Linked DNA regions of Homo sapiens: regions 1, 2, 3, 5, 6 and 7 are each reported to be linked to region 4. The links are microRNA targets in miRTarBase. Many come from high-throughput screens and were not tested one by one. Region 4 holds a microRNA gene; each other region holds the end of a gene's coding sequence. Distances are between the middles of the regions.

The links. The annotated mature microRNA hsa-miR-215-5p reads AUGACCUAUGAAUUGACAGAC and lies in region 4 at 988-1,008, shown strand. An mRNA with a match to its seed (bases 2 to 7 or 8) in the 3' UTR can be bound and repressed. Matches are read on the target gene's strand: a 7mer-m8 pairs with bases 2 to 8, a 7mer-A1 pairs with bases 2 to 7 and ends in A, and an 8mer does both.
Region 1: miRTarBase lists CD83 as a target of hsa-miR-215-5p. The part of its 3' UTR that is shown has no 7-base or 8-base seed match.
Region 2: the mRNA of PPP2R3B is a reported target of hsa-miR-215-5p. The part of its 3' UTR that is shown has no 7-base or 8-base seed match.
Region 3: the mRNA of NOXO1 is a reported target of hsa-miR-215-5p. The part of its 3' UTR that is shown has no 7-base or 8-base seed match.
Region 5: miRTarBase lists LIN9 as a target of hsa-miR-215-5p. Seed matches in the 3' UTR shown: 7mer-A1 at 1,248-1,254.
Region 6: the mRNA of HSPBAP1 is a reported target of hsa-miR-215-5p. The part of its 3' UTR that is shown has no 7-base or 8-base seed match.
Region 7: the mRNA of RBP7 is a reported target of hsa-miR-215-5p. The part of its 3' UTR that is shown has no 7-base or 8-base seed match.

Annotation. Positions count from the first base shown.
Region 1 is chr6:14,134,901-14,138,965 of GRCh38, forward strand. CD83 (CD83 molecule) reads left to right here. Exons shown (of 5, transcript NM_004233.4): 5 at 208-2,006. The coding sequence ends at 336. Among named protein-coding and RNA genes, the nearest start is that of CD83, 19 kb to the left of the region's middle.
Region 2 is chrY:331,006-335,070 of GRCh38, forward strand. It overlaps PPP2R3B (protein phosphatase 2 regulatory subunit B''beta), which reads right to left. Exons shown (of 13, transcript NM_013239.5-2): 13 at 2,928-3,512. The coding sequence ends at 3,362. Among named protein-coding and RNA genes, the nearest start is that of LINC00685, 14 kb to the left of the region's middle.
Region 3 is chr16:1,975,286-1,979,343 of GRCh38, reverse strand. It overlaps NOXO1 (NADPH oxidase organizer 1), which reads left to right. Exons shown (of 8, transcript NM_172167.3): 8 at 1-427. The coding sequence ends at 292. It overlaps TBL3 (transducin beta like 3), which reads right to left. Exons shown (of 22, transcript NM_006453.3): 9 at 3,906-3,999; 10 at 3,634-3,815; 11 at 3,395-3,536; 12 at 3,230-3,288; 13 at 3,030-3,133; 14 at 2,383-2,530; 15 at 2,060-2,290; 16 at 1,918-1,988; 17 at 1,674-1,830; 18 at 1,544-1,602; 19 at 1,283-1,386; 20 at 1,124-1,195; 21 at 873-1,031; 22 at 1-792. The coding sequence ends at 659. Among named protein-coding and RNA genes, the nearest start is that of NOXO1, 4.2 kb to the left of the region's middle. RefSeq lists a silencer at 1-28 and enhancers at 1-172, 173-752, 753-1,332.
Region 4 is chr1:220,114,859-220,118,923 of GRCh38, reverse strand. It overlaps MIR215 (microRNA 215), which reads left to right and starts at 962; the gene lies at 962-1,071. All of the region lies in intron 12 of IARS2 (isoleucyl-tRNA synthetase 2, mitochondrial), which reads right to left. MIR194-1 (microRNA 194-1) reads left to right here and starts at 683; the gene lies at 683-767. LOC124904515 (a long non-coding RNA gene) reads left to right here. Exons shown (of 2, transcript XR_007066883.1): 2 at 1,041-1,182.
Region 5 is chr1:226,228,946-226,233,010 of GRCh38, reverse strand. It overlaps LIN9 (lin-9 DREAM MuvB core complex component), which reads left to right. Exons shown (of 15, transcript NM_001366245.2): 15 at 405-1,854. The coding sequence ends at 510. Among named protein-coding and RNA genes, the nearest start is that of MIXL1, 7.3 kb to the right of the region's middle.
Region 6 is chr3:122,737,077-122,741,141 of GRCh38, forward strand. HSPBAP1 (HSPB1 associated protein 1) reads right to left here. Exons shown (of 8, transcript NM_024610.6): 7 at 3,927-4,037; 8 at 2,923-3,799. The coding sequence ends at 3,269. Among named protein-coding and RNA genes, the nearest start is that of HSPBAP1, 55 kb to the right of the region's middle.
Region 7 is chr1:10,015,062-10,019,126 of GRCh38, forward strand. It overlaps RBP7 (retinol binding protein 7), which reads left to right. Exons shown (of 4, transcript NM_052960.3): 4 at 721-960. The coding sequence ends at 771. Among named protein-coding and RNA genes, the nearest start is that of UBE4B, 16 kb to the right of the region's middle.

The sequences.
Region 1 (4,065 bases), not on the chromosome of region 4:
GCCACAATCAGTGAATCTCCTGGTCCAAGTTTAGAGACGCCAGTGAAATGGTTGGTACAAATCCCTTGTGGAGCGAGTGAGGCAGTGAGTATGAGAGCTTCCAGAATGGGTTGTCTAGCCAGCTCTTAGTGAATAGAGTTTAAAAGGAGGTGACAACTGCTGAATTTTTCCAATTATTCACTTCACATTTCTTTCATTTCTTTTTAGAAGTTTGCACGGCTACAGAGTATCTTCCCAGATTTTTCTAAAGCTGGCATGGAACGAGCTTTTCTCCCAGTTACCTCCCCAAATAAGCATTTAGGGCTAGTGACTCCTCACAAGACAGAACTGGTATGAGCAGGATTTCTGCAGGTTCTTCTTCCTGAAGCTGAGGCTCAGGGGTGTGCCTGTCTGTTACACTGGAGGAGAGAAGAATGAGCCTACGCTGAAGATGGCATCCTGTGAAGTCCTTCACCTCACTGAAAACATCTGGAAGGGGATCCCACCCCATTTTCTGTGGGCAGGCCTCGAAAACCATCACATGACCACATAGCATGAGGCCACTGCTGCTTCTCCATGGCCACCTTTTCAGCGATGTATGCAGCTATCTGGTCAACCTCCTGGACATTTTTTCAGTCATATAAAAGCTATGGTGAGATGCAGCTGGAAAAGGGTCTTGGGAAATATGAATGCCCCCAGCTGGCCCGTGACAGACTCCTGAGGACAGCTGTCCTCTTCTGCATCTTGGGGACATCTCTTTGAATTTTCTGTGTTTTGCTGTACCAGCCCAGATGTTTTACGTCTGGGAGAAATTGACAGATCAAGCTGTGAGACAGTGGGAAATATTTAGCAAATAATTTCCTGGTGTGAAGGTCCTGCTATTACTAAGGAGTAATCTGTGTACAAAGAAATAACAAGTCGATGAACTATTCCCCAGCAGGGTCTTTTCATCTGGGAAAGACATCCATAAAGAAGCAATAAAGAAGAGTGCCACATTTATTTTTATATCTATATGTACTTGTCAAAGAAGGTTTGTGTTTTTCTGCTTTTGAAATCTGTATCTGTAGTGAGATAGCATTGTGAACTGACAGGCAGCCTGGACATAGAGAGGGAGAAGAAGTCAGAGAGGGTGACAAGATAGAGAGCTATTTAATGGCCGGCTGGAAATGCTGGGCTGACGGTGCAGTCTGGGTGCTCGCCCACTTGTCCCACTATCTGGGTGCATGATCTTGAGCAAGTTCCTTCTGGTGTCTGCTTTCTCCATTGTAAACCACAAGGCTGTTGCATGGGCTAATGAAGATCATATACGTGAAAATTATTTGAAAACATATAAAGCACTATACAGATTCGAAACTCCATTGAGTCATTATCCTTGCTATGATGATGGTGTTTTGGGGATGAGAGGGTGCTATCCATTTCTCATGTTTTCCATTGTTTGAAACAAAGAAGGTTACCAAGAAGCCTTTCCTGTAGCCTTCTGTAGGAATTCTTTTGGGGAAGTGAGGAAGCCAGGTCCACGGTCTGTTCTTGAAGCAGTAGCCTAACACACTCCAAGATATGGACACACGGGAGCCGCTGGCAGAAGGGACTTCACGAAGTGTTGCATGGATGTTTTAGCCATTGTTGGCTTTCCCTTATCAAACTTGGGCCCTTCCCTTCTTGGTTTCCAAAGGCATTTTATTGCTTGAGTTATATGTTCACTGTCCCCCTAATATTAGGGAGTAAAACGGATACCAAGTTGATTTAGTGTTTTTACCTCTGTCTTGGCTTTCATGTTATTAAACGTATGCATGTGAAGAAAGGGTGTTTTTCTGTTTTATATTCAACTCATAAGACTTTGGGATAGGAAAAATGAGTAATGGTTACTAGGCTTAATACCTGGGTGATTACATAATCTGTACAATGAACCCCCATGATGTAAGTTTACCTATGTAACAAACCTGCACTTATACCCATGAACTTAAAATGAAAGTTAAAAATAAAAAACATATACAAATAAAAAAATCCCGACTTTGGGATGAGTGCTAGGATGTTGTAAACCAGTTTGAGAATCAGAATCCAAAATGAGAGCTGAAAGATTGGCTGAGTCTTTCTCGGAGGGAGGGCATGCTGGCAGACAGAGCTTTGTAAACAGCATCCTCCTTCCCAGAGATGCTTCTGCTTCCATCCTGGGGCCACGTTGCTACCCAGTACATGAGCAGCTCATACTAACATGCACGGTCATGGGTGGGCGGGATGGAGGGAGGGTTTCTGCTTCAGAAAGATGTGTAACATCAGGGGCTTTGTGCCTGGATTCATGGGTTTCACTCAAGATTCTCAAATAGGTCCCTTCCCCCCAAAATGTTAAGAACGATGTGGTCTAAGTAGTTGTAATAGTTATAAAAGCATCAGGCCAGGCACGGTGACTCATGCCTGTAATCCCAGCACTTTGGGAGGCCGAGGCAGGCGGATAACGAGGTCAGGAGATCGAGACCATCCTGGCTGACACGGTGAAACCCCGTGTCTACTAAAAATACAAAAAATTAGCCGGGCGTGGTGGCGGGTGCCTGTAGTCCCAGCTACTCAGGAGGCTGAGACAGGAGAATGGCATGAACCCTGGAGGCAGAGCTTGCAGTGAGCCGTGATTGTGCCACTGCACTGCAGCCTGGGCGACAGAGCAAGACTCCGTCTCAAAAAAAAAAAAAGCATCATAAGTGGAAGTCTCTTTACAAAGATGAATACACATAAAATGTCTCTAAAAGCTGTGGAATCACTTTCAATGGAATCAAGTCTGTTCTCAAATGCTTTACCAAAAGTGCCAGGGCATGGTAATTGAGAGTTCACAGAGCTCCTAGTCACCTGAGTGTGTAGCCCAGCTTCAAGATTTGGAAGTTATATTTCCTTGGGCAGAGGACTTACCCCTCTAAGCCTTAGCTGGCCAATCTTTAAAATAAGAATAGTATCTGCCTAATAGGTTTATTGTGAGGATTAAATAAGATAATATATAGAAGCAGTAAGCCTAGTGTGTAGCAAAAGGTAAGCCTTTGACTGATATTAGAACAAGAAAGGAGAAAAAGGTAGCAGAGAAAGTATCAGTAACCATAAATCTTTGACAAAGTGGTTTTGTTAAAAGGAATGAATTGGCTTGGTGAAGGAGTCATGCTGCTTTCAGAGGATTAATACTCAGTGTACTAAAATTCTTCGTGGCCATTAGAATTACAGTACAGGACACACCAGGAAGAAGGGTTGCCCTTTGTCAGTTTGGACTGAATTAAGCTGGAAACATGATGGAAATTTGAGAGCAGGCGGACTCAATGTTTCAGACCTAGTCTTTGGTATAAGAAAAAGTTTGTGTGTGGCGGGGCACGGTGGCTCACATCTGTAATCCCAGCACTTTGGGAGGCCAAGGCGGGCGGATAATGAGGTCAGGAGTTTGAGAGTAGCCTGGCCAGTATAGTGAAACCTGTCTCTACTAAAAACACAAAAATTGGCCAGGCGTGGCGGCGTGTGCCTGTGGTCCCAGCTACTTGGGAGGCTGAGGCAGGAGAATCACTTGAACCCGGGAGGCGGAGGTTGCAGTGAGCCGAGATCGCACCACTGCACTCCAGCCTGGGCAACAGAGTGAGACTCCATCTTAAAAAAAAAAAAAATGTGTGTGTGTGAGGCAGAGAGAGAGAGAGAGAGAGAGAGAAGGGGGTGTAGAAGAGAATGGAGGGCAGAATTTGTCAAGGAGAGTGGACTGGTCTCAACTGCCTCGATTGAGGCCTACGAAGATGTTTCAGAGGAAGGCAGATGATCATGGACCATATTTATTCTTCATCTCCATTGCCAGGGAAAGCTTTGTATTCAAGGCTGTCCCTTGTCTATGAAATTAGTTCTAGAGTTATAATAATTTTGCCTTGGGATGTCCCAGGGCACAAATACAGATGTGACTATCAGCTCCACATTCTTCCAAAAGAAAGCCTGTGGTTTTTTCGTATTTATAATAATACTTAGGAGGTTTCCTCGTAGAAAATACTGAGCCACACTCATGGAATCCAGCAGAGCCCGATTATTTCCTGGGGTTGCAAGGGAAGAGATAATAACAGCGACTTCTGGACGTAGAGA
Region 2 (4,065 bases), not on the chromosome of region 4:
CCGCCTTGTGGTCAGGACCCCCCTCCTTGTGGTCAGGACCCACTCGTGGCGGCCGGGGCTGCTGCGGGAGCTGATACCGGGGTGGAGACAGCTACGCCATGGTGAGGACACGGGGCCGGGGGAGGCTGCAGCCGACGGCCAGGCCCCCGTGCGGAAGACCCGGGGCAGCCCCCGCCTAGGAGCTGCGCAGACACGTCCTGGGGCCGCTGTTTCACCGAGACCCGAACGGCTGCTCCCCAGGCTCTGAGTGGCGTGTGCGGCAGCCAAGGCTGGGGGAGCTGTGACTTCTACACGGCGCCAGGGCGCAGGGATCCCTGCTGTGCCAGGGTCTGCCCGTGGGTCATGGGGAACGTGGTTCGAGGCCCCTCTGCTGTAGCCACGCAGCAGCGTCTTGCCGGGTGCGTGGCCTTGTCTGCAGGCTTGAGACCCAGCGGGGCCGTCTGTGCCACGTGGGGTCTGCGCCGGCCCAGGGGCCGCACCGCTGTCAGCCACAGGATGTGTGTCTCGGGGCTGCGGCAGACGGGGCTTCTGTGCCGTGTGGGGTCCGACCCCTCGGCCTGGGCAGGGCGGCCCGTGGGCACCGTGCTGGGGACGACCTCCGGCCTCTGCTCCTTCCCCGGCTCTGAGTCATAAAGGCCTCCCGCTCCCCCGGGAGCCGTGTCTTCTCTAGGAACTGCTGAGCGCGGCTGGGTCTGGCTCTGCCTCATTCCTGCATCTGATGCCCGCCCGTTCTCCCCCAACTCCCCTTTCTCCATCTCCTCCCTCCCCTCCGTCTTGCCCGTCTCCATTTCCTCCATCTCTCCCTTCTCCGTCTCCTCCGTCTCGTGGCTGTCCAGACCCCGTCCCTCCGCAGGCTGGGTCCCCCCTTGTTCTGGGCGGGGCTCTCGGTGCCGGTCTGGTGCCAGTGCTGGGAACCTGTGGTGCCCGTCACCTCTGCTCCCCGTCACCTCGGCTCCACCTCGAGGAGCTGTGTCCTGTCCCACGAGGAGGCGCCCCGGGACCTCAGGGCTGCAGGCCATGGCTGGGTCCGGCTTTGCCTCATCCCCTGTATCTGAGGCCCCCCAGTTCTCCCCCATCTCCCCCTCTCCATCTCCTCTGTCTCCCCCGTCTCATGGCTCTCCGGGCCCCGTCCCCCCCACCAGGCTGGGTCCCCTTATTCTGGGTAGCCCGTCTTGCCATCACTGTCCCTGCCGCCCCTCAGGACAGCGCTGTGGATGCCGGTCTGGTGCCGGCGGTCACCCCTGCTGCGCCTTGAGCAGCTGTGTCTTGTCCCGTGAGGAGGTGCCCCGGGACCTCAGGGCTGTGGCTGGCACCTTTCATGGTCCTCCCGGAACAGAGCTCATGCTGCTGCTCCTGGGTGGACCCGGGGCTGCCCCTGTGAACACTCTTGGTTCTGACACGAAGGCACCCCGTGAGGGAGGGGAGGGGTGGGCTGGGTCGGGTCCCTGCTCGGGGATCTCCAAGGGGTGACGGCCACGAAGTGCGGGGGACCCACGATTGTCATTCAGAGGGTGAGGCGCTGAGCCCTGGAACATCCTGGCTTCTGGCGGGACGCTGGCCACGGTCAGGGTGCCCCGAGTGCTTGTTTTGTGGGGTCCCTGGCCCCCTGCACACGTGAGCCCTCGGGGGAATGGACCCCCAGAACACGTGGAGGGCATGACTGCTGGGCTCTGGGTCTCCCCGCAGCGCCGCCGTCCACGAGGACCCCCGACAGGACCCCCCCACTTCTCCGGCAAAGGTGTCGGTGTGCACGCCCGGCCCCGGCACTGCCCGGGGCATCTGGGGTTGTGGCTGGGGAAGGACGGGGCACTTGGGGGAATGCATTGGGTACAGGGATGTCGGAGGATGCTCAGTGGCTGTGCAGGGGCCTCACCAGCGTCGTGGGTGGGGGACGCTGTCTTTCACGGCCCCAGGGAGGCCTCTCATGTCTCAGCCTTGAACCCTAATTGGGGGGGCTCCCAGTGTCAGTGTGGGGAGGCTGAGGGCGCTGGTCAGAGCCCTCCCATGACCATGGGCTCCGGCTCATAGGTGTGTGTGTGTTGGGGGGTGGTGTCCGGAGGTGGTGTGGGGCGGACATGGTCTCCCAGACGGGCTCCCCGGAGCTGAGGGCAGGGTGGGCCCTGCGGGCCGTGGCTCCCAGTGTCATTTCCCTGCGGCAGAACCTCCTGCCCTGCACCTGTCCTGTTGTTGGGGGTCCTGACCCTTCGCAGACCCAGGTGGGGGCATCCGGGAATTCAGGGGAGCACCTGGTGACACTGAGGACACCTTGGGGACAGCAGCATTCCCCCGGGAGGTGCTGCCTCGTCTACCCACCACCTGGAGCCCCCGCAGTCTCTCCTCAGGGGTCACGGGACCACCCTGTGCGTCCGCCTCCTTCACAGCGACGGCTGCCGGTGGATGAACGGGGTGCGTATGCTGCTCTCGGGGTGGTCCCGGCTTGGCCCTGCCCTGCCGCGTGGACGCTGCCACCTCCGTTTCCTGGGGGAGAGTTTTGTCGTGTGTGAGGACGGGGTTGTTCCCATGGTCACCACCTGTGACCCTCACCTGCGTGCAGAGGGAGCACAGCTGGGCCTGGGCTCATCCACGTCGGGTGCCCCTGGGGTGCTTGTGGCCTCCCCTGCACAGGGAGCTCCTCCTGGTGGGGCCTCCGACCCCCCTCATTTAGGTGTCCCCCAGCTGTGGACGTCCCCACTCTGGCGCGGGCTCCTTCCTTCTGGGGTCGTTTGTGGAACGGGGCCTGGGTCCGTGGCTCCGGGAGGGAACGGCCCCGAGGGTGGGGTCCCCCTGGCTGGGGAGGGGCCCCGCAGAGAGGCCCAGGCTGCACCCCGAGGCGTCTGGCGTGGCTGCGGTCCCCCTCCAGCACTGACGCTTGTAAATCCTGGACGGAGCCACGCTGTGGCTGAGGGAGCCGAGCCCGTGACTGAAAATCCTCCAAACGTACAAGCGTGATCGCCAGAAACGGTTTTGTACGTTTACACAAAACATTCACACAGCCTGTGGTGGAGGCTCCTGTCCAGGACTGAGGCGCCCGGGAGCCGCCGGTCACCGTTGTGCGCACACGGACCCTTTCCACAGACGCAGGCCCCGGAACCCAGGCTGGGTCGGGAACGGCAAGCGCCAGAGGGTGTCCGTGTGGGAACCCGTCCCATTCACGCGCGGCCCTACGTGTCCCCCTGGCACAGAGCTCTGGGCAGGTCCAGCCACGAACCCACAGCGGCAATCAACACGCTTCTGTGAATAAATAAAAGTTTATCATTCCGTACAAACGCACTCATTTTCCACAACAGTTTTTACACGAGCCGCGGTGGCCCGGTGGTGGCACGTGGGGAGCGGCCCCGCGGCGGCGTTCTCGCGGGCGGCGTCACAGCGGCTCCAGGTCCTCGTCCCCGCATGCGTACTCGTACAGGTCCACGGCGCCCAGCGGTGAGGGCGCCTCGAAGAAGGGCCTCTGGGCCAGCGGGGAGCGCAGCGCACTCAGCTTCTGCTCCACAGGGCTGAGCTCGGCCTCGAACCTGCAACGAGGGGATGGCGAAGACGTGGCCAGCAGCGCGGAGCAGGCCCTGGGCCGTTTTCCGGGAAACACAGGCTGCTCGGCCGCCAACCTCCAGCACGAGACAGTCCCCTGAGCCGACCTTGAGCTCCAGCCGCTGAGCCAGCAACGCGCTCCTGGCTGAGGACGCCGGCTCCACGAATGCTCCCGGGGGAGGGGCCTGCGGTGCAGGTGAAAACCCACCCAGGACGGGACGGAGCCCCGGGCGTGAGCTACACACAGAGGACCTGGGCGGGCGCGCCTCTTCCCCAAAGCGAGCTGCACGGGACCTGTGTTTACAACTGGGTCGTGGTGTCCACACAGGACTGGAGAACAAACAGGACCACAGTTTAGACACATTCTCCCAAAGCACAGAAGCTCCCAGTGGAGGCTACCACTTCCGTTCTGACCAGAACACGCAGCAGTGCGAGGACTGGACGCGCGCCTTCCCTTAAGGTCTCGGCAGTGACGTCGGGCGCTGCTCCGGGGAACCCAGCGCGGCCACGGACCACACAGACTCTCAGAGATCCTGTGGG
Region 3 (4,058 bases), not on the chromosome of region 4:
CGACCGGGCGGGCCTACTCCCCGCGGTGCTGCTGCGGCCGGAAGGGCTGGGCGCTCTCCTGAGCGGGACGGGGTTCCGTGGAGGAGACGACCCGGCGGGTGAGGCCCGGGGCTTCCCTGAACCCTCCCAGGCCACCGCCCCTCCCCCCACCGTGCCCACCCGACCTTCGCCGGGCGCCATCCAGAGCCGCTGCTGCACCGTCACACGCAGGGCCCTGGAGCGGCGCCCACGGCGCCAGGGCCGCCCTCGAGGGTGCGTGGACTCTGTGCCGCACCCCACGACGGAGCAGTGAGCGCGAGGATCCCGATGAGGGGATGGACCGCGCCATCCCAGGGCTGGGGAGGAGCGGGGAGGGCGGATCTCCCTGGCCAGCAGGGATGGGAGGGGGCCATTTGCTGTTCCTCTGAGTAAAGCTTGTTCTGCATGACCCCCACCGTCTAAGCGTGCGGAGCCGCGGGCTGGATCTCTGCCAGGCCAGGGTGCGGGATGGGCGTGGCAGGGCCGAGACCATCAGCTCCAGTGCCCTTCTGGCTGGCTAGGTAGGGTGTTGGCCAGGGTGGGGGGCTGGACTGCAGTCCAGAGAGACAGAGCCGGCCAGGAGAGCGGCCTTTATGGGTTTTCCAGGGGTTCAGGATGGACTGGAGAGAGGCCGGACCGGCTAGGGCAGTGCGCCTTTATGGGTTTCCCAGGGGGTGGGGGCGGCGGCCGGCACAGGGAGCTTCATGTTGTGCCACAGGAAGTCCAAGAAAGCGGCGGCCTGGAGGGTCCTGCTGAGCCGCTGAAAGTGCCGCTCTGGGGTTGGACAGAGGGAGGTCAGGGGGGTGGTCCACACGCCCACCAGGATCCCCCAACCCCAGGCTGTGCCCACATACCAGTGTAGGGCAGCAGGGCCTCAAGCGCTGCCCGCACGCCTTCGTAGGCCAGCAGCTCCTCGGGGGCCTCTCGCCTCAAGAGCACACCCAGCACGGCCTGGGCCTCGTGGCAGTGCCGCGAGTTGGTGTTCCACGTGACGCAGAAGCGCAGCAGGGCCTCTGTGGGCAACAGGACCCTCATCGTCTTGCCCAGCCAATCTGCCATGACTGGCCCTTGCCCACCGGGCCACCCACCCTGACTGGCCGCCAACCTTTCTGGTCGCGCCGCAGTCGGAGCATGGTGGCTTCCAGCTTCTCGCAGGCCTCAGGGTCCCTCCGGATGGCTGTGGGAGAAGGGAAGGCTGAGCTGGGGAAAGCAGAGCCCAGTGGTCCGAAGACCCAGCCCCTCGCCCCCCGGGGTGGGCACTGACCCTGGATGACAGTCAGCACGGTGTGGGGCCGATCCAGGGAGATGGCCAGGCCCAGCGCCCGCAGGTACCGCTTCTCATGCAGCAGGTTGTCCAGCTCTTGCTGCCTGTGGGGAGGGGAGGAGAGGCCACTGAGGGCCGCTGGCTGGGGCTGCAGGCAGAGCCATCGGAGTCAGCAGGCAGGGAGCCTGGCACTCAGCCTCGTTTTCCCTACAGCACAGAGCAGGGCTGATGCGGGGAGGGGCGCCACTGCCCTGGCCTTACCTGACCACCTGCTCCTCTTGCCTGGCCTGCTCCTCTGCCTGCTCCGCCTCGGTCACATCCTGGGGTTAGACTAGGGTCAGATGGGGCCTCCACTCCACCCCGACTCTTCCCTGCCCTTGGGGCCCACAACCTTCCAGAGGATGACTCGGGAGTCACTGGCCCCAGTGAGGGCGTGGTCGTCCAGCCGGCTGCAGTGCAGCCCCCAGACCTTGTCCTCGTGGGCATCCAGCGTCCGCACACACTCGTTGTTCTTGATGGTCCAGAGCTTCACGAGGCCATCCGAACCGCTGGGTTTGGGGTGGGGAGAGGCTCAGCGTCAGGCAGGTCCCCCCGCCACCCCCCACTCCATCGCTGCCCCACCCCAGCCCACTCACCTGGACAGCAGCTGCGTGCCACGGCTCACAAAGGCCACCTTCAGCACAGAAGCATCGTGCCCCTCAAATGTCTGCAAGGTGGGGGGTAGGGCATGAGATGTCACCAGGGCGGGAAGTGGGGAGGGTCTGGAGCGCCACTTACCTTGAGACAGCTGAAGTCCTGGAGTGCCCAGAGCTTGATGGTGCCATCAGCTGAGGCCGTGGCCAGCACCTGGTCCATGGGAGAGAACTGGACGCACCAGAGGCCACGCCGGTGGCCTGAGAAGACACCCAGCAGCTGGCACTGTGGCAGGGCCCAGAGCTTGGCCGTGCGGTCCTGTGAGCCTGTGGCCAGCAGCTTGTCGTTGGGGGCAATAGCCACGCTGTTGATGTCCTGGCAATGGGAGAAGGTGGTGGCTCAGCAATCCCCCATCTTCCCCCAGCAAGGGCTTGGCCACACCCCCACCCCAGTGGCTATGGAGTCACCTTATCATGGCAGCGCTGAGTGGTCTGGGCCTGCAGGAGGATAGGGCCGTTGTCTGGGGCTGTGTTCTTGGACAGCAAGGCTTTGGGAAGAGGCCACAGCTTCACAGTGCAGTCCTGGCTGCCTGTCACCAGGAAGGACTCCTTCAGCCTGTGACCCAACAGGAGAGGAGGAGACACAGCTGAGCCCCAGCCAGCCCTGATGGCCAGCTCCCCACAGGGCCAGGCTGGGAGCCCACGGTCCAGACCACGGGGCCTGTCCCAGGATGCGGGTTGGCCTGGGTCACCCCCAGGCACCTGTAGGATCAAGCCCTGTCTACATTGTCCACCCGCAGCACCGGGTGGCTCAGCCCTAGCCACAGGACCCTGTGCCTACATGCAGGGGTCACCTCTCCACCTGGGCCTCGTGCAGGGTCATTCTCTCTGCCTAATGCCCTTCCCCCTTTAACCACTTCACCAGGGCTACTTCTGAGGACTGACCCCGAGGCACCTAGGGACTCTCCTGTCCTGTTCTGTTCCACATCTTTGGGCTGGAGCCTCAGAGCAAGCCAAAGCTGCCACTGCCTCCCCAGCTCCCTGAGCGGCAGCCCTGCTGGCAGGCCTGGGCCTCCACCTCCCTGACACCCCTGGGCCCAGCCCCGACTCACTACCTAGAGCAGCAGACGGTGCCCACACTGTGTGTGTGACCGGAACCCTGAGCCACGCACATCACCTGGCCAGCCTTGTTCATTCTCCAGATACGGACGCTCTGATCCTGGGGACAGGGAGTTGAGGAGAGAGGCTGGTCCATGGGCCTACTGCGTGGCCTCCCCGCCTGGTGCCCCTGCCCCTACCTCTCAGGGTGCCTCACCTTGGCACAGCTGGCAAAGAGCCACCCCTTCCGGAACACATCCAGGGCCAGGACGATATCTGAGATGTTGTGGGGAGGTATAGGTCACACAGCAAGACGGGGGAAGGGAAGCAAGCAAGGGACCGAGGCGGCTCCCAGGGTGTCAGGTGGGCTGGCCCCACTCACCCGTGTGGCCGTGGAGGATCTGGCAGGCTGACGTCTGCAGCTCAAACACTTTTAGGCAGGGGCTATTGGAGGCCACGACAACGTGGGAGTCCTCGGGCCCAAGAAACCGGACATCCAAAACCTCCTCACTGTAGCCAGCGAACTGCGGGGTGGCAGGGAGCAGGAGATGTGAGCCAGGACCTGTGTAAGAGGAGGGCTGGTGCCCGCAGCCTCCAGACTGAGCAAGGGCAGGTGTGCACCTGTTTCTGCAGCCGCAGGGAGCGAGCCTCGTAGAGCAACAGGTTGTGGTCGGCGGTGGCGGTGAGGACCACGCCGGCGGTGTGTGCCAGGGTGCAGTGGGTCAGCTCCTGCCCAGGGCCCGGCGGCTGGGCCTGCGTGTACACACACTGCCCAGAAGCTGCCTCCCACACGCGCAGAGTGCCTGTGTGGGTGGGGACAGGGCTGCTGAGACTCTCAGGTCCACAGGCCTTCCCCAGCCCCTACCGCCTGCCCATGTCCCGGCCCAACACACCTTGGTCGCCAGCTGTCAGAAAGTACAGCCCTGGGGACTTCACACCCAGCTGGGACACTGGCTCCTCTGGCAACAGCACAGCAGCCTCCACGCTCTGGAGACGAATTGGGTCACAGGCTGCTATCATGCCCCCTCCCCACCCAACTCAACCAG
Region 4 (4,065 bases):
GGAAGGGGAAATTCTATTTTTAGTTTAATCCTAGATTTATGTTTTAAAGCTGACAGAAAACCATTTTGAAGAAATTTTTCTTTATTTAATGAACATAAATTTTTTGAACAAAAGGTTTATTATTGTTAACTGAGAAAAAATTTGAGGTAGCTAAAGTTAACACTCAAATTATATTGGAAATTCCTTGGCTATTTTTACTAAATTTCTCATAATTTCCAGAAGTTAGGGGCTAAGTTTCACTATGTTAACTATAGCATTAATAGCATGAAAGTGATTATAACTGTTTGAAATGATGAAAGAAATTTAACCAACTTCTTTTCCTTCCCAGGTAGCCAGTGTTTCTACATTTTATCTTTTTTATGCTAAAAATTATTTCTTCTGTTTTTATTGACTAGTAACAGATTTCAACCCAAATTCTAATGGCATTATCTCACAGATTCAAAAAATGACCAATGACAGTAAAGTCAGAAATGGAATTATTTCTTGATAAAATACAAATATGATCTAAAATGCAAATGACACTATTAATTCAAATCAAAATAAAACATCAGCGTTTCAAATCTACCAGTCCCTAAACTTATTTAGAACATGAATAAATCGAGACTTTCTTCTGTGAAACAAGTATACTTAGAGATATCGTACAGCTCCCATGATGAGCAAAAGGAATCTCCTTATATGTTTAATGGTGTTATCAAGTGTAACAGCAACTCCATGTGGACTGTGTACCAATTTCCAGTGGAGATGCTGTTACTTTTGATGGTTACCAACTTGCTACAATATAAAGGTATAATAAAGAAAGACAGAAAATTGTGGTCACTTGGACTCTCATTTGATTCCAGCAGAAAAAAAGATTTTCAGCCTGTTTTATAAAATTAACAAATGATTAAGAATTAATATCAATTTTCTTAAATTCAAGTTTTGTAACACCAAAAAGATCCAATAATGGAAGAGGATTAAAGTCATCATTCAGAAATGGTATACAGGAAAATGACCTATGAATTGACAGACAATATAGCTGAGTTTGTCTGTCATTTCTTTAGGCCAATATTCTGTATGACTGTGCTACTTCAATATCAGAAATCGACTAACACCACGCAACCAACGCAATGGCAGGTACACAGAAGATAATCTGTAACACTACCATGTAAATGTATTGAGTAAATAAAACATAAATATACCTAATGAAAACTTGTGTTTTTCTGACAAAGCTCATATTTATTTAACCTAACTTACTGACCAGTCAACCTATGTACCATTTAATTATCAGGATGTATCAATTAAACCAGTTTGCTATATTTACTAATACATACATATGATCCACCTCAGAGTCCAGAGGGCTATTCCACCAAGGAATCCCCACCCACCTCAATCACTTCAGTGAAATTCCCTAGACATCTTGCTCTCTAAATAGTGAAAAGAAGAGTAGCCGGGCACAGTGGCTCACGCCTGTAATCCCAGCACTTTGGGAGGCTGAGGCGGGCGGATCACTTGAGGTCGGGAGTTTGAGACCAGCCTGACCAACATGGAGAAACCCCGTCTCTACTAAAAAATATATATATATAAAATTAGCCGGGCGTGGTGGCACATGCCTCTAATCCCAACTACTCAGGAGGCTGAGGCAGGAGAATCACTTGAACCTGGGAGGCGGAGATTGCAGTGAGCTGAGATCGTGCCACTACACTCCAGCCTAGGAAACAAGAGTGAAACTCCATCTCAAAAAAAAAAAAAAAAAAAAAAAAGAAGAGGAGACAATGACATGGCTTATAAAACTTTCCAAAAAAAAAAAAAACTTTCCAGTGTGAAATTTTAAACAAATGTTTGTGGAAACTCGTCTCAGGTATAATCACTTTAATTCTTTTTCTTTTAAACTAAGTCTGAGGCTGGGCATGGTAGCTCATGCCTGTAATCTCAGCACTCTGGGAGGCAGAGGTGGATGGATCCTTTGTGGCCAGGAGTTCGAGACCAGCCTCGTCAACGTGGCAAGAGCCCATCTCTACTAAAAATACAAGAATTAGCCAAGTCAGTGGCGCGTGCCTGTAGTCCCAGCTACTCAGGAGGCTGAGGAGGGAGAATCACTTGAACCTGGGAGGTGGAGGTTGTAGTGAGCCAAGATCACATCACTGCACTCCAGCCTGGGTGACAGAGTGAGACTGTATCAAAAATAAAATAAAATAATCTGAACTGGACAGAATTTACATTAATTCTTAATGTAAGTATTAAGATATTAGTAGTTTACATCTGACCAAGCTCTGTAAGAACACCACAGCAACAATATTTAGATTATTCCTAAAGTCTTACCTCAGATCCAACTTATAATAATATTGAAATAGCTTTCCAATGACTTTCCAGTCTCTAGCCTCTACTTTCTTTTCCTAAAACATACTCTTACTCCTCAAGTCTACTTAAAAGTTTAAACTTCTTAATAGCATAATTTAGAAAAAATTCCATTCACCAAATTAAAAAAAATTGCTCAAAGAAAATGAAAATCTGGAATGTGTTCCTAAAAGGAAGAATTAACATTCCCCTCTCCACATCTGTGAAAAACAGCAACAACACTCAAAGCCTCCCTAATATTACTAGAAGATAAACTAGCTAGACTATTATCTCATTAAAAACAGGGGCCATGTCAGTCTTGTTCACTGTAGCAACTAGCAGTTCCTAGCACTGACACGTACTAAGTGCTTGACAATGTGTTCTGTTTTGTTTCGTTCTGAAGAGACAGTGTCTTGCTCTGTCATCCAGGCTGGAGTGCATTGGCATGATCATAGCTCACTATAACCTCAAACTCCTGGACTTGAGCGATCCTCTCGCCTTAGCCTCCCAAGTCGCTGGGACTACAGGCCCACACTACCACACCAGCTAATTTTTAAATTTTTCTGTAGAGATGGGGTCTCACTGTAATCTTGAACAGCTGGCTTCAAGCAATCCTGCCGCCTTGGCCTCCCAAAGTGCTGGGATTACAGGCATGAGCCACTGTGCCCACATAACAATGTTTCTTAAGTGAATACATGAATAGCTCATCATCTATGGAATACTGTGCTTTACACCAAGTAGTTTGCATTTATTATTTAGTATTCATAACAGTCTACCTGCAACCATTGCTTTTCCTATTTTATAGAGGAGCCAGAGGCTAAGTAAATTCCTCAGTCTCACACACAGTGAATGGCAAAGCCTGGGTTCAAATTCAGTTGCCATTCTCCAAAGCTCACAGATTTCCAAGCAACTTCTCTTTCGAAAAGCACAAAAGGGAGCTGTTCGGGATAAAAGAATTATTCTAAGACACAATTATGATAGTGGCTGTAAAACTTAACAAATTTACTATAAATCACTTATAATAAATGAATTTTTCTTTTTTAATTTTTTTGAGATAGAGTCTCACTCTGTCACCCAGGCTGGAGTCCAGTGGCACGATCTTGGCTCACTGCAACCTCTGCCTCCCAGGTTCAAGCAGTTCTCTGCCTGAGCCTTCGGAGTAGCTGAGATTACAGGCCCGCGCCACCATGCCTGGCTAATTTTTGTATTTTCGGTAGAGATGGAGTTTCACCATCTTGGCCAGGCTGGTCTTGAACTCCTGACCTCATGATACACCAGCCTCGGCCTCCCAAAGGGCTGGGATTACAGGCGTGAGCCACCGCACCTGGCCATGAATTTTATAGTATGTAAAGTATGCTTTAATAAAGCTTAAGAATGAGGCTGATCTATGTGTAGTGATTTGGAATAAATCATAACACATAAAGTGAAAAAAATCTAGGCACAGAGCAGAAGATAGAGATACTCTCTTTTGTATAAACATATGTATGTGCTGACAGAAGAATTCATTTTTTCTGGAAAGATTCAGAAACAGCTGTAAACAATGACTGCCTCAAAAAAAGGTTCTGGATACCTGGAGTAGGAAAAAGCCTACTTTTCAGTGTACAAGCTTTTCTACTATGAATTGTTCACTATGTCCATCTATTACCTTTCCAACTCAAAAAAAAAAAAAGGGAAAAACTGGGAATATAATCATCAGTGTAATCATGTGCATTTAACTACAATTTCTTAAATTTTAAGTATCTACACAATTAC
Region 5 (4,065 bases), 6.1 Mb from region 4:
GAAGTACTCATATATTATTATCCGTTAAATATATTTGTAAGAGCTTTTCACTTATATCCAGCCTATGGACAGAATAGAAATTTCACATGGATTTTGTATATAAAGAAATCAGGACATATATTTAGGTTTGGGGTCAGCATGGAGGTTGAGCTTAGAGGTAGAGCTTCCCCAGTCAGTGAGAGACTCATCTTCTCCTTCCAGCCCCCCGTGGCTCCTTTGCTTCTTTAGAGCATATTTGTTCAACTACTACTGAAGTAGAATTATGGCTAATATATTAGAGGAGATTTATTCCTTCCCTAAGATTTATCATAGCTGTTTCCTAACTAAAATTCAGGTCTTCTTTTAAAAATTTTTTTCTTAATTTTTTGAAATAAAGTAGTTAACCATGTTTCTTCTTTCTTTAGTTGCTTTCAGAATAATGTAGAAATCCATGTTGCACATATTCAGAGTGGCCTGAGCCAGATGGGAAACTTACATGCCTTTGCAGCAAATAACACCAACAGAGACTGAGTAAAGATTTCATTATTCCAACTGCACGGGACATTGTTTTTGAGAAGTTCTTTTCCTTTATATAGGCTTCCAACACCAAATAACCTAACTGCTGGAAAACAAGGGAAATTTAAATCTCCAAATAAGGCATTTTAATAGACTGTACTGCTTCTTAAACCAGCATTGCTGACCAGCATTATATTTATTTTTCTTTTATTATTCAGATGCAGTAGCATTGCTTATGTTACATATGTTTATATTCACAAATATTTTTAAACTGAAATATCTGAACATAATATAATTTCGTGGAAGAATACATTGACCATTTTTTTTAATGTGCATGAATTCACCGCAACACATGCAGACAACTGCTGCAATGGAGAGTATGAAGAAACCTGGTCTTTTTATTCATGTCGGTGGCAGTGTGGAAATTCCATCCAGAAAATTACAACTCCACTTGATTTAGTTGATCACCATCTCAGTCTTCAAAAGATAACATCATGAGGTGTGGGAAGTCCTAGTTTTAAGGAAACCACTGAAATATAGATGGGAAATGTGGACTTTACAAGTATATGTTATATATACTTGCAATGTGACATGGTTCTGTAGATCATTTTATAATAATAAATATTTTAATTTATCATAACATATAAAAGAAACCTTTGTTGTTTGTTGAAAGAAAATGAAGGAACAGGGGGAAAAAAGGTGCAAAATGCTAAATTTCTAAAAATGGATTTGGCATGTCTTCCCATCAGTTCAGGTCAAAAGTGCATTGTTGTGAGATTTATTAAAAAAAAAATGATAACACACTATTTTCATATTTTTTTGTTTATTTGCACAACTTTTAAACCAGATTACTGGTTAAAATCCAACAGTACACAATTTATAAAGTAAAAAGATTTTATAAGGAAAACAAATATAATAACCAGTGCTGTGAAATGCAGAAGAAAGGCTTGTTTTGGTTGTTTTTCTTTTTTAGGAAAACGCTGCCTAAAATGTTAATCTTGTAAAAAGTATGTATTTGGAATTTTCTTCGTTTTAATAGAATATTATAAACTCAAAATATAAATTTTTTTCAAATTTGGAGTTTAAGATATAGCTGTAGAGGTGGTTTTAATTCCTTTAGATGTCTCATAAAATGAGACTTTTTATATGTTAATGTATAATAAAACTGAAACAAGATTATTTTCCATTTGAAATTTTTGTATAGTTTAAAAAGGCTTCCGTATTCTTTGTTGGTATTGTGCCACTGCAGAACTTTAGTGCAGAGTTTATATTTAGCTAAACTGTTATGTTAATTAAGAAATGCATAAATCTTCTATTCTTAATATTTGTAATTCTAAATAAATTGATCTATGAAAATTATTATTTTCTATATTTTCATTTAATTCAAGTCAATATGCATTCCTTCTGTTTAAAAAGTTTTGAAGAATTGTAATTTCCATTAAGTTATATTTTTAGGGGAAACAGTACAGATTACCGAGTCTCTCTGAAGTACCATACCATCCAATGGTATGGATTTTATTTATTACCATACCATACCATCCAGTGATACGGATTTTATTTATTACCATACCATCCAGTGGTATGGTATTAAGCAGGTAAGTTATTTGGCCTGGTATAGACCTAGTGAAAGGTTGATTTTAATATATTCTGCCTAGAATTGGGTATTTTGTGCATTTTTTCTTTTACATTTCTTTTTTTTTTTCTCTGTCGCCCAGGCTGGAGTGCAGTGATGCAATCTCAGCTCACCACAACCTCCAGGTCTTGGGTTCAAGGGATTCTTCCACCTCAGCCTCCTGAGTAGCTGGGATTACAGGCACGCGCCACCACGCCTGGCTAATTTTTGTATTTTTAGTAGAAACAGAGTTTCACCGTATTGGTCAGGCTGGTCTCGAACTCCCAACCTCAAGTGATCCACCTGCCTCAGCCTCCCAAAGTGCTGGGATTACAGGTGTGAGCCACCATACCCGGCCTGTCTTACTTACATTTCTTAAGGCTTATTTGTCACACTTAAATAGTACCTCATTTTACACATATTTAATTGAGCACTGTTTATCTTTCAGTGCCTTCATGTGTTGACAGCAGGGACTGTGCTGGAGAATACAGTTGAATTTTATTTCTGTTTTGGGAGGAAGAAATCTATATTTCCAAGTAGTCATGTTGGGTCAGCCATACATTGATTTGAATGATATGCCACTGCTTAACACACTTTCGGAGCTCTAAAGAAAGCTATCAAAGCCAGATTGAGCAAACATGCAAGCACATACATGGCTTTTATTTATATAGATTTGGTTCTGAGTTACTTTAAGCTAGTTCCAAAAGTCACATTCACTCGTAACCATTGAGAATCTACAAAAATATTTGCCCATTAGCATTTTTGAATCAATGCACCTCTCTCCATCTTCATTATCACCACTACTTGCAGCCCAGCTGCCATCATCACTGGCCTGGAACACTGCAATTGTCTCCTAACTTACCTCCCAGCATCTACTCAGCCCTCTTCAAATGCAGTCAGAGGGATCATCTTAAAATGCAGAATGGATCATGTTATCCCTCTGTCTATAAATGCTTTTAAAGTCTTCATTTGGCTTTCAGGACAAATTCAAAACTCTTTTACAAGACCTATAAAGCCATGCATGATCTGGCCCCCCCCCCCCCACTTCTTTATCTGCTCGTTACTTCACAGGGTCTTTGCACATGCAGTGTGTTCCCTCTCCTCTCCTTGTAACTCTTGATCATCTTCCAGATCTCACCTTCAGCATCACTTTTTCAAGGAAGCTTTCATTAACCACAGCACATCTATTACAATGTCTCCAGATCATATATCTCTCCTTCCAGCACTTGGCACATTTGCAATTTAATATTAATATTTCTTGGAGGTCTTTTGTCTCCCTACTAGCCTCTGCTCCATGAGGGGAGGGACTGTTTCTGTTTTTGTTCACCATTTATTTCCAGGTCCTGGTAAAGTGCCTGTTCATGGGCAACAAATAAATATTTGTGTAATGAGTGGGCAAATGAGAGTTTCAAAAAAGCTCTAAGCAACATTAATGTCATCAGAATAAGAGTATGGTCTTCCGTGGTGATTTCCTTGAAAGATGAGACAGTAATGACTGGCATGTAGAAATTCTGACTTGGTGATTGCTTTTAAACCTATCACATTACTTTATCATTAGTCCTGACTAACAAGACCACTGCAATATAGGAGGCACTGTATGGTGGTAGACTAATGGGTGGGCTGAGTTTGAGTCCTGGCCATGCCATTTATAAGCTGTATAATTGTGAGACACTACTTAGATTCAGTTTCTTGATCTTTAAAGTAGGAAGATTAGTCCCTGTCTTACATGGTAGGTGTGAGGATAAAATAGATAATGTCTGTAACACATTTAGCAGTTAGGGCCTCTTAGAGTTTGAGAGAGCTGCAGGCTACTTCTTAGAGGATCCCACAATTTAAAATGTGACAACAGGATTTACATATTTATAGATTTTTACAGTTGTTCACTGGGGAAACAACATGAGACAATATAAAAGCAATAATAAAATAATTACCAGATTTTTTCGTAAGTGCGATTCTTA
Region 6 (4,065 bases), not on the chromosome of region 4:
AATTGTCCCTGTTTGCAGATGACATGATTGTATATCTAGAAAACCCCACTGTCTCAGCCCAAAATCTCCTTAAGCTGATAAGCAACTTCAGCAAAGTCTCAGGATACAAAATCAATGTGCAAAAATCACAAGCATTCTTATACACCAATAACAGACAGAGAGCCAAATCATGAGTGAACTCCCATTCACAATTGCTTCGAAGAGAATAAAATACCTAGGAATCCAACTTACAAGGGATGTGAAGGACCTCTTCAAGGAGAACTACAAACCACTGCTCGATGAAATAAAAGAGGATATAAACAAATGGAAGAACATTCCATGCTCATCGGTTGGAAGAATCAATATCATGAAAATGGCCATACAGCCCAAGGTAATTTATAGATTCAATGCCATCCCCATCAAGCTACCAATGACTTTCTTCACAGAATTGGAAAAAACTACTTTAAAGTTCATATGGAAGCAAAAAAGAGCCCGCATCGCCAAGTCAATCCTAAGCCAAAAGAACAAAGCTGGAGGCATCACGCTACCTGACTTCAAACTATACAAGGCTACAGTAACCAAAACAGCATAGTACTGGTACCAAAACAGAGATATAGATCAATGGAACAGAACAGAGCCCTCAGAAATAATGCCACATATCTACAACTATCTGATCTTTGACAAACTTGACAAAAACAAGAAATGGGGAAAGGATTCCCTATTTAATAAATGGTGCTGGGAAAACTGGCTAGCCATATGTAGAAAGCTGAAACTGGATACCTTCTTTACACCTTATACAAAAATTAATTCAAGATGGATTAAAGACTTACATGTTAGACCTAAAACCATAAAAACCCTAGAAGAAAACCTAGGCAATACCATTCAGGACGTAGGCATGGGCAAGGACTTCATGTCTAAAACACCAAAAGCAATGGCAACAAAAGCCAAAATTGACAAATGGGATCTAATTAAACTAAAGAGCTTCTGCACAGCAAAAGAAACTACCATCAGAGTGAACAGGCAACCTACAGAATGGGAGAAAATTTTCACAACCTACTCATCTGACAAACGGCTAATATCCGGAATCTACAATGAACTCAAACAAATTTACAAGAAAAAAACAAACAACCCCATCAAAAAGTGAGCAAAGGACATGAACAGACACTTCTCAAAAGAAGACATTTATGCAGCCAAAAAACACATGAAAAAATGCTCATCATCACTGGCCATCAGAGAAATGCAAATCAAAACAATGAGATACCATCTCACACCAGTTAGAATGGTGATCATTAAAACATCAGGAAACAACAGGTGCTGGAGAGGATATGGAGAAATAGGAACACTTTTACACTGTTGGTGGGACTGTAAATTAGTTCAACCATTGTGGAAGTCAGTGTGGCGATTCCTCAAGGATCTAGAACTAGAAATACCATTTGACCCAGCCATCCTATTACTGGGTATATACCCAAAGGACTATAAATCATGCTGCTATAAAGACACATGCACACGTATGTTTATAGCGGCACTATTCACAATAGCAAAGACTTGGAACCAACCCAAATGTCCAACAACGATAGACTGGATTAAGAAAATGTGGCACATATACACCATGGAAAACTATGCAGCCATAAAAAAGGATGAGTTCATGTCCTTTGTAGGGACATGGATGAAACTGGAAATCATCATTCTCAGCAAACTATCGCAAGGACAAAAAACCAAACACTGCACGTTCTCACTCATAGGTGGGAATTGAACAATGAGAACACATGGACATAGGAAGGGGAACATCACACACCGGGGCCTGTTGTGGGGTGGGGGGAGGGGGAGGGATAGCATTAGGAGATACACCTAATGCTAAATGATGAGTTAATGGGTGCAGTACACCAACATGGCACATGTATACACATGTAACAAACCTGTACATTGTGCACATGCACTGTAAAACTTAAAGTACAATAATAATAAAATGAATGAATAAATAAATAAATAAATAAAGGACTATACCAAGAATCACAGCTACCTTACTTTGGCCACATTCTCTGTCCCAATGTACTTGATGAGGTATTGTCAATGAGGTCTCATTTTTATTATTCATTCATTCAAATATTTAATAAGCACCTACTACATGCTGGGTACTCATTGCGGCTCTACAAATAACAGCAATAATCACAGTCCCTACCCTTAAGGAGTTACATTTTGGTTGAGAGAGATAGTAATGAAATTCATAGGTAAATACATAGTGGTCCGATGGAGATAAAAGCCACAGAAGGGCTCTTTTCAGGCCCTTCTTTCCCTGGCATGCTTACATAACAATACCCTCCTTCCCTCTGTGACAACACATACTTTCTTTGGATTTACTGATACTCATTACCTCGAGGACAGTAGGATAGCCAGCAATCAGTTCATCTCAAAGGTGACTTTGCATATCTTTTCTGTTGTGTATTTGTTTCATGCATGGTTACTCAGAGATCAATATGCTTTTCTAATTTCTAAATTCCTTCTTAGACAGTAATGGTAATTAATTATCCCTGGATCTTGCAAATGTAATGAGAGTGGGATCAATTTCACTGAGCTAAGCCTTTAGTCACTGTTTGGGGAGTTTGAGTCCTTTTTAGCCCTAGGATTGGTGTCCCTAGATGTCCAAGTTCCTTGCCTAAAGAGGCCTCATACTGAACCCACAACTACTTTTCTCCTGATTGGTATCCTACTCTGAATGACAGGGGATAACCAGTGAGAATTCTGCAGCTGTTACAAGTGAGATCACTTCAGAGCGAGGCTAGACTCCAGACCCACTGGATCCATTAGACCAGAGGCTGACAAAGCTTTTCTGTAAAGGAACAGATACTGAATATTTTTTCTGGGCCATACACTCTCTGTCACTACTCAACACTGCCGTCGTAATCCTGAAGACATCATAGACAATATGTAAATGAATGGCATGGCCGTGTTCTAGTAAAATTTTATTTGCAAAAGTAAGCAGCCGGTTGGTCCCTGGTTGAGGCTGAGGAAGACATTACTTCCTGCTGGAAATACTTGGGACTTACATTTGACACAGGCTAAAAGTATGGGATGAGAGAGGAACAAAAGCTTACAAACAAAGAGCAGCCAGTTTGGCCAAAGAGGAATGTGCATGAAAGAAGGTGGCAACAGACTGACATGTAATTCGGTAAGGATAAATACATTTACAAATGTGCAAACTGACCTTTTGCTGGTTCATCTTTATTTTAGTCATACTACTTAAAAATATATATTTAAAAAATATTATTTTAAAAGTCATCTTCCACTTGAATCATAAACTTCTTCCTTGTATCAAAAGTTGTGCCACTATCCTGGTTACTTGTGGATTCACCAAGCAGTCCAGCAAGTCATCCGTAGAAATGAATGTTTGAGGAGTCGTAGTAGTATTTGAGGCAATCTGTTCCTCAATTGCATTTTCACTGTTGCTCATTATTTGTTGTCTCTTGGCACAATGCAATTTTCCAAAGTGTTCTCCATCCTTGTCCACAAAGTCTTTCCCATCACTTCCAAATATGCCTCCTCTTTCTGAAGGCGGTTCTTCGGACCTCTGTGCTACAGGGACCAGATCAGGGCCAAAGGGACTTGCTGCCTCCGGTTTGTCTGTTCCTGTGGTCAAGTTCTGGCTACCTGTTTGGCCCACCTCCATGTGGTTGCACACATTTAATTCTTCCTTTTTCATGTGCTCTCCATCTGTTCTCAGTGCTTGGATTTCTACTACCTCAGATGTTCTGCAGCGATCAAAAAATGCAGAAACAGCTGCATTTAAGTAGCAACAGTTGACTGCATGGGACGTTTCCTCAACCTAAGGGAAGAGAAAAACCTTTTAAAATGGTTACATACATTTAGTTACACTGGAAAACATATGTTCTAGTCAGGGCTGGTTTACCACAGGAAACTAACTGCCATGATGAAGACCAGAAGCCGCCTACCTCAGTGGGGTTTAACCAGGCTCTGGTATTTTGTGGATTCTCTGCAGTTTTCAGGGCACACACAAGCATACGGGTGATTGCCTCTTCTACCCGGGCTAGGTGATCCTCTTCCTGAATTAAAAAAACACGCTTTTAACTT
Region 7 (4,065 bases), 210 Mb from region 4:
AGTAGGCCAGGTGTGGTGGCTTATAACTATAATCCTAGCACTTTCGGAGGGCAAGGCAGGAAAATCATTTGAGGCTAGGAGTTCAAGACCAGCCTAGGGGTCAGGCGCAGTAGCTCATGCTTGTAATCCCAGCACTTTGGGAGGCTGAGGCGGGCAGATCATGAGGTCAGGAGTTCAAGAACAGCCTGGCCAACATGGTGAAACCCCGTCGCTACTAAAAATACAAAAATTAGCAGAGCATGGTGGCACACACCTGTAATCCTAGCTACTCAGGAGGCCGAGGCAGAAGAATTGCTTGAAGGCAATTCCGCTTAAAGGCAGAGGTTGCAGTGAGCCAAGATTGCACCACTGCACTCCAGCCTGGGCTACAGAGTGAGACTCCATCTCAAAAAAAAAAAAAAAAAGACCAGCCTAGGCAGTGGCAACCCTGTCCCTACAAAAAACACAAAAATTAGCCGGGCATGATGGCACGTGCCTGCAGTGTCCCAGCTACTTTGGGGGCTGAGGTGGGAGGATCGCTTGAGCCTGGGAGGCAGAGGTTACAGTGAGCCGAGATCTCACCACTGTACTTAGCCAGGACGACAGAGTGAGACCCCATCTCATAAAAGAAAAAAACATGTTCCAGAAAAGGGTTAAAACACAATAAAAAATAAGTGTTGAGAGTAAAAACAGACCACATGCAAACTGATCCTTCTTTTTCCCTTCCTCCTTACGCCCTAGGAAATGTTCTGTGAAGGTCAAGTGTGCAAACAGACATTCCAGAGAGCCTGATCCACATCCAGCAGCAGAGCCCACTTGTGGCTGCAGCTTTATGCCAAATTATATTGCAGACTGAACAGACGTTTATCTATCCCATTTGGCGACGAGGACTCGTGGCTGGAGAGAGCCACACAGCGTGTAACCTGAAGTCATCTAGATTATGGGGAAACTGCTCAGCTTCAATAAACCTGTCCAAATGACTCTGAAGTTTTTCCTTTCCGATTTAGGAAATCCCAGCATTTAAAAAAATATTTGAAAGTCTTCTAGGCACATGAGAGACACACCAGTGAACAAGCTGTCAGTCCTGCCTTCAAGGCTAGTGAGGAAGCTGGCCAAAACAAGCAACCTGAACAGCCACCAGAGCTCTGGGGGTGGGGGGCAGATGACTTTGAGGGATGGGCAGATGGTGATATTGACAGGGGTCTGGGATGGTGATTTTGTTTCTTTTCTTTTCTTTTCTTTTCTTTTTTTTTGAGACAGAGTCCTGCTCTGTCACCCAGGCTAGAGTGCAGTGGCTCCATCTCGGCTCACTGAAACCTCTGGCTCCTGGCTTCAAGCAATTCTCCTGCCTCATCTTCCCAAGTAGCTGGGATTATAGGCATGTGCCACCACACTCAGCTAATTTTTGTATTTTTAGTAGAGATGGGGTTTCACCATGTTGGCCAGGCTGGTCTCGAACTCCTGACCTCAGGTGATCCACCCACCTTGGCCTCCCAAAGTGTTGGGATTACAGGCATAAGCCACCGTGCCTGGCCAGCAGTTCCTCTTTTTTTTTTTTTTTAAACAACATTTAGAATCTCCCCAAGGGTAGCTTAGAGAAAAGAAAATCCAAGACAGGAAATCAGAAGCTATCTATGGGGGGAAAAATAACCTTAATAATGGCAAAGTTACACAAATAACAAACCAGAAAGGAATCATTCCAGAAGCCAAGAATTCAACCCAGATCACCCTTGTCAAAGGACAAAGCCTTAGCTACTGAGCTACACAGCATTGGGCAGTTTCCTTCTTTTTTTTTTCTTTTTTTTGACGGAGTCTCACTCTGTTGCCAGGCTGGAGTGCAGTGGCACAGACTCGGATCACTGCAACCTCTGCCTCCTGGGTTCAAGTGATTCTCCTGCCTCAGCCTCCTGAGTAGCTGGGACTACAGGTGTGTGACACCACGCCCAGCTAATTTTTGTATTTTTAGTAGAGATGGGTTTCACCAGGTTGGCCAGGATGGTCTCGATCTCTTGACCTTGTGATCCACCCACCTTGGCCTCCCAAAGTGCTGGGATTACAGGGATGAGCCACCGCACCCAGCCCTGGGCAGTTTCTATTGCTATTCCCAGAAGAAGTCTAGCCAAATTCAAGATTTCAAAGGCTCTTAACTGCTCAAGATAATTTTTTTTTTTTGAGACAGAGTCTTGCTGTGTTGCCCAGGCTGGAGTGCAGTGGCGTGATCTTGGCTCACTGCAAGCTCCGCCTCCCGGGTTCACGCCATTCTCCTGCCTCAGCCTCCCGAGTAGCTGGGACTACAGGCACCCACCACCACGCCTGGCCAATTTTTTTGTATTTTTAGTAGAGATAGGGTTTCACCATATTAGCCAGGATGGTCTTGATCTGCTGACCTCATGACCCACCCGCCTCGGCCTTCCAAAGTGCTGGGATTACAGGTGTGAGCCACCGCGACCGGCCTGCTCAAGATAATTTTTAGGGCTAACTATGACATGAACCCCAAAATTCCTGTCCTCTAGATGGCAGAAACCAAGATAAAGTATCCCCACATGGCCACAAGGTTAAGCTCTTATGGACACAAAACAAGGCAGAGAAATGTCATTTGGCATTGGTTTCAGGGACCCATAGCAACATTTGTAAATGACCAGCCTGATGGGCTGGCTTGAAAACTTGGCTTATAGGCATCCTAAACCCACGTTCTATCCCCTGATACTCCCCTCTTCATTACAGAACAACAAAGAAAGACAAATTCTTAGCATAAAGTACACCAGATTTGCTACAGCCTAAGACTGGTCTGACAAATCCTTTTTTTCTACTAATCAGACCCTCGCAGAGAAGACAAATAGTGGCATTTACCGTTTACACAACATATACAGAGAGAGAGAGACCAGAAACTTGGCTGGTAAGAATTTCTTCCTCTGGCCAGGAGCGGTGGCTCACACCTGTAATCTCAGCCCTTTGGGAGGCTGAGGCGGGTGGATCAGAAGGTCAAGAGATCCAGACCATCCTGGCCAACATGGTGAAACCCCGTCTCTACTAAAAATACAAAAATTAGCTGGACATGGTGGTGGGCGCCTGTAGTCCCAGCTACTCAGGAGGCTGAGGCAGGAGAATTGCTTGAACCCAGGAGGTGGAGGTTGCAGTGAGCCTAGATCACGCCACTGCACTCCAGCCTGGCGACACAGCGAGACTCCGTCTCAAAAAAAAAAATAATAAATAAGAAAAGGAAAAAAAAGAATACAACTCAGGAACAGCCAAATGGAGGAGATGCATGGGACAAGGTTTAGTGGGGGGCTGCGGAGCTTCCTTGCCCTCTGCAGGTGCACCACCCTTGCAGTGCGTGGATATGTTTGAGGCAGGAGACCAGGGTCTGGAGGCAGGGAACCTAAGGCTGTTTTGGGCTGACTTCCTAGAACTAAATTGAAAAGAAAATCCTAACTTTCCAAGCCTAAGTAACAAAAGGACCAGAGGCTACCCCTTTGCAAACCCCTACCTTTTCTGTGGCAGATGGGAAATTGTAAGTACCTCTAATTAATTAATTAATTGCCTTTTTTTTTTTTTGAGACAGAGTCTCTCTCTGTTGCCCAGGCTGGAGTGCAGTGGCACCATCTCGGCTTGCTGCAACCTCCACCTCCTGCGTTCAGGTGATTCCCCCACACTTACTGGGCTGCATTCCCAGAAGGTTAAGGCATTCTTAGTCACAGGATGAGATAGGAGGACAGCACAAGACACAGGTCACAAAGACCTTGCTAATAAAACAGGTTGTGGTAAAGAAGCCAGGAAAACCCACCAAAACCAAGATGGTGATGAGAGTGGCCTCTGGTCTTCCTCACTGCTCATCATACACTAATTATAATGCATTAGCATTAGCACCCACCACGCCCAGCTAATTTTTGTATTTTTAGTAGAGACGGGGTTTTACCATGTTGGCCAGGATGGTCTCCATCTCTTGACCTCATCATCCGCCCACCTCTGCTTTCCGCAACCAATCGGACTGATTACAGGCCACTACTTCACCTCATTTACATGGGTGAACACCCAGTGGCCAATGGGAAACCTCTAGTGGGTATTTGGACTGGAGAAAATTCTGTA